Homo sapiens: one gene and its partner. The protein of the gene in region 1 binds, or shares a complex with, the protein of each later gene. Each region holds a gene or a part of one and is shown on either strand. Other genes may lie near its edges.

What was found. Proteins that work in one complex are often made in the same cells at the same time.
Region 2: the proteins of PPP2CA (region 1) and PPP2R5A are in contact, whole or in part, in a cryo-EM structure (PDB 6NTS), measured with the Homo sapiens proteins. Residues at the interface, in NP_002706.1 of Homo sapiens: Arg121, Gln122, Gln125, Tyr130, Asp131, Leu134, Ala140, Trp143, Arg268; in NP_006234.1 of Homo sapiens: Glu146, Glu147, Glu149, Thr281, Lys283, Lys316, Phe317, Trp318, Pro319, Lys320, Thr321, Ser323, Gln324, Lys325, Ser362, Ser363, His364, Phe365, Trp407.

What each region holds. Positions count from the first base shown.
Region 1 is NC_000005.10:134,224,605-134,228,352, forward strand, and holds the start of PPP2CA (serine/threonine-protein phosphatase 2A catalytic subunit alpha isoform), read right to left. Parts: upstream 1,470-3,748; 5' UTR 1,258-1,469; coding exon 1,156-1,257; exon of another isoform or gene 1,153-1,155; intron 951-1,152; exon of another isoform or gene 605-950; intron 1-604. UniProt on the Homo sapiens protein: Catalytic subunit of protein phosphatase 2A (PP2A), a serine/threonine phosphatase involved in the regulation of a wide variety of enzymes, signal transduction pathways, and cellular events.
Region 2 is NC_000001.11:212,351,329-212,355,076, reverse strand, and holds part of PPP2R5A (serine/threonine-protein phosphatase 2A 56 kDa regulatory subunit alpha isoform), read right to left. Parts: intron 2,260-3,748; exon of another isoform or gene 2,127-2,259; intron 1-2,126. UniProt on the Homo sapiens protein: The B regulatory subunit might modulate substrate selectivity and catalytic activity, and might also direct the localization of the catalytic enzyme to a particular subcellular compartment.

The DNA.
Region 1 (3,748 bases):
AAGGGAAGTTAAAATGTTCACAGCAGAGATCAGCATTTTGTGTACTTTAGAAAACTGAGTTACAAGAATTTAAAAATACAACACAAAGCTAATAGCTAAATTAACTACCTGTTTCCCCAACCCCCAGGGGAAAACAAAAGGGAATTAGCTAATATAAAGTTTAGTGTTACTAAGTGGACTACAACATTCTATTTTCAGTGTATGTGAGACATTATTTAAACACTAAGCACAATGTCTGGAATACAATCTCAGTCGACAGTTATTATCACTACTACTACTTGCAGCCACAAAATACTATCAAGTAATTTTTGCAACAAAGATACAAAATTTACCGCTCTTCCATTTTATGTTGTTCATTTTAAAAATAAACGGCAAAATGCCAAGTGTGTTAAGCTTAGAGAAGGCTTTGAGTCAGCATATAAATCATATTCAACCGACACTTGATTTCCAATCCAAAAGCTCCTTATGTAGTATGACTCACCAAATTCCCGATTTCTTCCAACTATGAAAAATAAGTTACACTCCTCCCTTATAGCTACCACCATGACCTTCGTAAAAATTAGGTTAAGAGAATAATTTAAAAATTCTTAAAGACACCCCTTACCTTGATTTCTGGAGAAGATCGCTTGGTGAGTTTAATACAAACCACCAAGGGGTACTAAAGCTGTGTGACCTTTAGGTATGTTCTGGGATACGGCCTAACAAGACTGCCTTTGGGGGATCCTCTGGGCAGCTCTGGACCTAACTAGGCCTGGGTACCAGCGGCAAGACTCTTACTCAGCCCACCGGAGAGGCCCAGGCTCCATTCCCAAGCCGCAGAATCCAAGCCAGCTCACCCTCAAAACCGTCCCTGACGATGACCCACAGGGTCTCCGCTCCCCCTGCCACCTCGTCTGGCGCCAAGGCCGGCTGACTCAAAAGCCCAGGAGTCGAGTGAACGGCGCCATTTTAGGCGGCGGCGGCAACCAATCCCTGCGCGGGAGGCAGGGGGCGCCGGGTCGTTAGGAAGCCGCCGCCGGCCAGGATGGGCGCCGGTCTCGGAGACTCGGGGGGCCCGGACCGGCGGCCTCCGCCATGTTGCACCCTCCTCACGGCCGCCTTTTCCTCGGCGGGCTCGGCCCCGCGGCGGCTGTCCGCAGCCGTACTACAGCTCACCTTCTCGCAGAGGCTCTTGACCTGGGACTCGGACAGCTGCTTGCACTCGTTCAGCTGCTCGATCCACTGGTCCAGCTCCTTGGTGAACACCTTCTCGTCCATGATGCCACCCGCCCCAGCCGGCTGCCGCTCCGCGCTGCTCCCGCGCCGCCGCCCGCACACGGGCCTACACGCACACGCCGCCGCCGGTTCCTCGTGTACTTCTGGCGGCTGTTGAGGCTGGCGCTGGCCCGCTGGCTCTCACCGCAGTACTCGGCCGTCGGCCGCTGCGCCTCCTCCTCCGCTCGCTGAGGCTCCAGAGCTCGGCTCTCTGTAATGGCGGCCGCCGGGCGTGGTGACGTCACGCCCGGCGTCAGGAGGCGGCGGGGAGCGGAGGGGAAAAGGGCCGGGGAGCAAGCTGCGCAACTGCAGAGCCCTCCCCGGGCGGCCGCACGACCGGAGTTGGGGCGCAAACTGGGGGTCAAAGCGCAGGCGCGACGTAGCCGGCTGGTAACTGAAGCGCCTTGACTTTTTGGGCGTGGCTCCCGGAGGGCGGGGTGGTGGGGGAAGGGAAGGATGGAGCTGGAGCATGCGCAGTGCGCACAGCGGCGAACCGGACTAATCCCTGAGCACTATTCCAGGAGAGGCGAGGGCTTGGGCCGCGCGCAGGCGCAGACCGGATGGAAGCCGGGGCCACTGGCAGCCTGTAACTGGTTCCCCTGGGAAGGCCGCTCTGGTGATGAACTCAGCTCCTCACCTGGGGCCTGGCAGTCCGATCACGGAAACGAGAATTGCGACCCCGTGGCTCATCTGGGGTGCTGCGGCTCTGTAATCGTGTGGGTTTCCGTCATCTTTGGGGGCAGGAACGGGCAGCGAGTGGCCGCTTGGATTAACCACCCCCACCTCTGGGCGCGGCTGGCACCTTGTAATTAGGTCACTCGTAGGTGGAGGAGCGTGTACCTACCGGGGGAGTGCTGCGCAGTGCACCTGACTTCCGCGGCACACACCCGTCCCCGGACCTAGGTGTCTCGTCGGGCGCGATGGCGGGGGCGAGGCTTGGGCTTTTCTTTGGGCCTCGGACCGCGGCTCGCTTCCACGCGCCCCGCTCCTCGCCGGTGGTTGCTTTCCTCCAAGTTTAATTCTCTCTGGGAATGAGAGACCCTCAACCCCTGCGCGCCCTGGCCTACTTTCAAGAGGGGAAGCCCAGAGAAGATGGATGCACCTGTCCTGACCGCGTCTCGGTGGCGTGAGAAGCAGCTGTGATACGTGCTTAAAAGAGAGAGCTCGTATACCCTAGGATTGGACCTCTGTCTGGTTATGAATCGCTTTGGAGTTTGCGAAACGTTTTCACATTCCATTGTCCCTGCTTTTACATAAATATCTGGTTCCATAGAGCGCCAGCTATATGCCAGATCCGGAGGGGTCATCCAGACGGACCAGGGACCATGCCCTGGAGCTTGTATTCTCCCAACAGTACTGGCTGAAGATGGTTTGGGATAGGCAGAAGAGAGATCATAATGCCCCCAGGATTTGAAAGATATAGAAGCTTTCCAAAGAACATTTAACCATAAAGGGCAAGGCAAGAGCTGAACCTGATCGCCTGTCTTCCAGGAACCCCACCCTCAGTATCAGGCAACCCTTCCACACCCAAGTGCTCAGCGATGCTTGGGAGGAGACTGCTCACTCTGCGGCTCTGAGGGCATCATCCCCACCAACAGGCTGAAGAAGGCACTGGAGGCCCCATCAGCCAATAGCAGGACTGAAAATCCTCCTTTATCCAAGACAACGTGTTTGGCAAGGCCGACTGGCTTGGCCTCCCTAGGCTGGAAATTGCAATTCTGCTTTCCCTTCACACCTCCCATTAGTGTGCACAAAAGAAAGTACCTTAAATCTACTCTTCTAGAAGTCTTATCACATACTTAATTTACCAGACTGGGAAAAAGACCCTTTAGCCCAAATTCTGTCCCTGTTTTGCAGTTAACATCCCCAAACAATAGAAGGGTAAGAGTTAAGACCAAGTGGAATGAATAAGGAAAAAATCATCACTTAGTGCCCGTGATTATAAAGCCATACCCAGTGTGCTGTCTAATCTTATTCTTTACCGTTGCCATGAACCTGTGTGAGAACTGTCTGATGGGGCAAGAAGCAGACAGGCACTCAGAAAAGAGAAGGGACTTGCCTAAGATAGTGGTCAGGATTTAAAACTGCACACTCCCAAGTACAAAGTCTCAGCCACAGTCATGCAGTTGACCTTCCAAGGTCTGACATATGGAACAGAATCAACATTATTTCTCTTTGCCTAGATTCTCTCTCTTTTTTTTTTTTTTTTTTTTTTTTTTTTGAGCCAGAGTCTCACTCTGTTGCACAGGCTGGAGTGCAGTGGTGCAATCTCGGTTCACTGCAAACTCTGCCTCCCAGGTTCAAGCAAATCTCCTGCCTCAGCCTCCCAAGTAGCTGGGATTACAGGCACCCGCCACCATGCCCGGGTAATTTTTATATTTTTAGTAGAGACGGATTTCGCCACGTTGGCCAGGCTGGTCTCAAACTCCTGACCTCAGGTGATCCGCCTGCTTCAGCCTCCCAAAGTGCTGGGATTACAGGTGTGAGCCACCGC
Region 2 (3,748 bases), on another chromosome or scaffold:
GAAGATCATAGAAGACTACAAATACAGTTATATGTCATTTAATGATGGGGATACGTTCTAAGAAATGTGTCATTAGGCAACTTCATCATTTAAATGTCACAGGGTGTACTTAAACCTAGATGGTATGGCCTACTACACACCTAGGCTGTATGGTGTAGCCTTTTGCTCCTAGGCTACAAACCTGTACAGGATGTTCTTGTACTGAATACCGTAGGCACTGTAGGCAGTTGTAACAATAGTATTTGTGTATCTAAACACGAAAGGTACAGTAAAAATATAGCATTATAATCTTATGGGATCACCATTTTTCTTTCTCTTGGAATCACATTTCTCTCTCTCTCTCTCTCTCTCAACATTTCTCTCTCTTTTTGATGAGGCCTCACTCTGTTGCCTAGGCTGGAGTGTAGTGACATGATCAGAGGTCATTGTAACCTTGAACTCCTAGGCTTATTGTAACCTTGAACTCCTAGGCTTAAATGATCCTCCTGCCTCAGCCTCCCAAGTAGCTGGGACTACGGGTGTATGCCACCACATCTGGCTAATTTTAATTTTTTACTTTTTGTAGAAACGAGGTCTTGCTCTGTTGCCCAGGCTGGTCTTAAAGTCCTGGCTTCAACCAATCCTCCTACCTTGGCCTCCCAAAGTGCTGGGATTACAGACATGAGCAACCATGCCCAGTTCCATTTTTATTTTTTAAGAGACAGTCCAGACTTGCATTGTCGGCCAGGCTGGGGTGCACTGGTGTGATCACAGTTCACTGCAACCCCCTAGGCTCAAGAGATCCCCCTACCCCAGCCTCCCAAGTAGCTGGGATTACAGTCCTGAGCCACCACGCCTGTCTGGGACTGACATTTTATATGTAGCCTGTTATTTTTATTTATTTATTTATTTTTGAGACAGAGTCTCGCTCTGTCACCCAGGCTGGAGTGCAGTGGCACGATCTCGGCTCACTGCAACCTCTGCCTCCCGGGTTCATGCTATTCTCCTGCCTCAGCCTCCTGAGTAGCTGGGACTACAGGCGCCCGCCACCAGGCTCAGCTAATTTTTTGTATTTTTAGTAGAGACGGGGTTTCACTGTGTTAGCCAGGATGGTCTCGATCTCCTGACCTCGTGATCTACCCGCCTCGGCCTCTCAAAGTGCTAGGATTACAGGCTTGAGCCACAGCGCCCGGCCCGTAGCCTGTTATTAAACGAAATGTCATTATGCAGCACATGACTGTAAATAAGTGAGGTGGTTCAATATTGTGCAGAGATATTTTTCCTGTACTTAATTTATAAGTAAATTTAATATAATTTCAATCAAATGCCAATTGAATTATTTTTTGGAACTAGAAACATTTATTCTAAAATCCATAAATATAAGCAAATAAGAATTGTTTTTTTGGTGGGGGGAGTTAATGGAACAGAACCTGTATTATGGATATCAGCAACTAAAACAAGATTATATTGGCAAAGAAATGGAGAGAAAAGATATATATGAGTATCTAGATATACTCATGTATATATGGATTTTAATATATGACAAAGGTGGCCTTTCAGTTCCATGGGAAACAGTGGTGGTACTGGGACAGGTAGCTCACTATTTAGAAAGGAAAAATGTAGCAGGCTCCTTTGGTTGGCAGACTTCTATGATGATCTCATGAGCTTGTTAACTGTCCTCACACCCTTGTGTAATCCCCTCTCCTTAAGTGTGAGCTGTCCTAGTGACTTGCTTCTAACGAACAGACTGTGGCAAAAGTGAAAGAATGTCACTTCATGAGTAAGATACAAAAGATTGTGACTTCTGTCTTACTAGTAGACTCGCTGTCTTGGCTTTGATGAAGTAAGGTGCCATGCTGGAGAAGCCTGGGTGACAAGGATCTGAGGGTGGGCTCTGGCCAACAGCCAGCCAGGAACTGAGGCTCTCAGTCCAACATAACTTGACAAACTGAATTCTGCCAACATACATGTGAACTTAGAAGCAGATCCTTCCCCATCTGACACTTTATATGAGACTCAACTTCTGGCCAACACTCCAACTGCAGCTTTGTAAGAGACCCTGAGCAGAGGGCCCACCTAAGCCATGACCAGATTCTGGATTCACAGCAACTAAGGCAACAAATGCTTGTCATTTTTCCTCCCAATGGAATGGTATTTTCCCAAAATCTTGCAGATCAGTTACAGCAAACAGAACTATGACCATCAAGGAAAACTGTCACTCTTGGCTTCTTTTTGACCACAGCAGCTACATGGAAGCAGCTGCAGCTTTGATAAAGGCCATAAATGCTTGCTATTTTAAGCCAATAAATTTTGTGATCATTTGATATGCGTAATTGAAAATGAATGCAGGCCAGGCATGGTGGCTCAGGCCTTTAATCCCAGCACTTTGGGAGGCCAAGGCAGGCTTGGGCCCAAGAGATCAATACCAGCCTGGGCATCATGGTGAAACCCCATCTCATCTTTACCAAAAATACAAAAAAATTAGCTGGGCATGGTGGTGCATGCCTGTAGTCCCAGCTACTTGGGAGGCTAAGGCAGGAGGATCACCTGAGCCTGGGAGGTCAGGGCTGCCGTCAGCCACAATCGTACTACTGCACTCCATCCTGGGTGATGTGGTGAGATCCTGTCTGAAAAAAAAAAAAACCCAAAACACAAACAAACAAACCCAAATGTAGTTCCTTACCCTCATCATACACAAATTTCAATGTCGGGCAGTATTGAATAACGAACACTGGGTTGACTAGTGGCCCCCAAAAAGATGTCAATGTGGGCCAGGTGCAGTGGCTTACAACTGTAATCCTAGCACTTTGGAAGGCCAAGGAAGGCACACTGCCTGATCTTAGGAGTTTGAGACCAGCCTGGGCAACATGATGAAACTCCATCTCTACTAAAAATACAAAAAAAAACCTAGCCGGGCGTGGTATCGGGCGCCTGTTATCTCAGCTACTCAGGAGGCTAAGGAACAAGAATTGCGTGAACCCAGGAGGTGGAGGTTGCAGTGAGCCGAGATGGTGCCACTGACTGCACTCCAGCCTGGGCAACAGAGTGAGTCTCTGTCTCAAAAAAATAAATAAAATATAAAATAAAATAAAAATAAAATAATAAAATAAAATATAAAATAAAATAAAAAAGAAAAATAAAAAAATTATTTTGGGGCTCAAGTTAGATTTTCTTGGAATAAGAACGGTGTTTTGTTTTGTTTTGCTTGTTTTATAAAAATGCAGCTTTGAGTGGAAGGAAAGGTTTACACTGCCAAAAAAATAAAAGTTTTGAAAGTCATGCCGACTCTTCATTTTTTTCCTCTTTACATGGAAACTTAGCTGTAATGAATATTTAGTTAATTCTTCCACTCTGCACTTTTTTCTTTTTAGACGGAGTCTCACTCTGTTGCCCAGGCTGGAGTGCAGTGCTGTGATCTCGGCTCACTGCAACCTCTGCCCTCCTGGGTTCAAGCCATTCTCCTGCCTCAAGCAATTCTGCCTCAGTCTCCCAAGTAGCTGGGATTACAGGTGCCCGCCATCACGCCCGGCTAATTTTTGTATTTTTAGTAGGGATGGGGTTTCATCATGTTGGCCAGGCTGGTCTTGAACTCCTGATCTCAGGTGATCTGCCTGCCTCAGCCTCCCAAAGTGCTGGGATTACAGGCTTGAGTAATAAACTAACAAAAGCTCTGAGCTACTTATAATTTGTAGAAAGCTTTGATAGGAATGCCTGCTTTCCAGAAAATTAGTATTAAGGCTTAAACCCAAGTAATATGGCCGTAATTTTG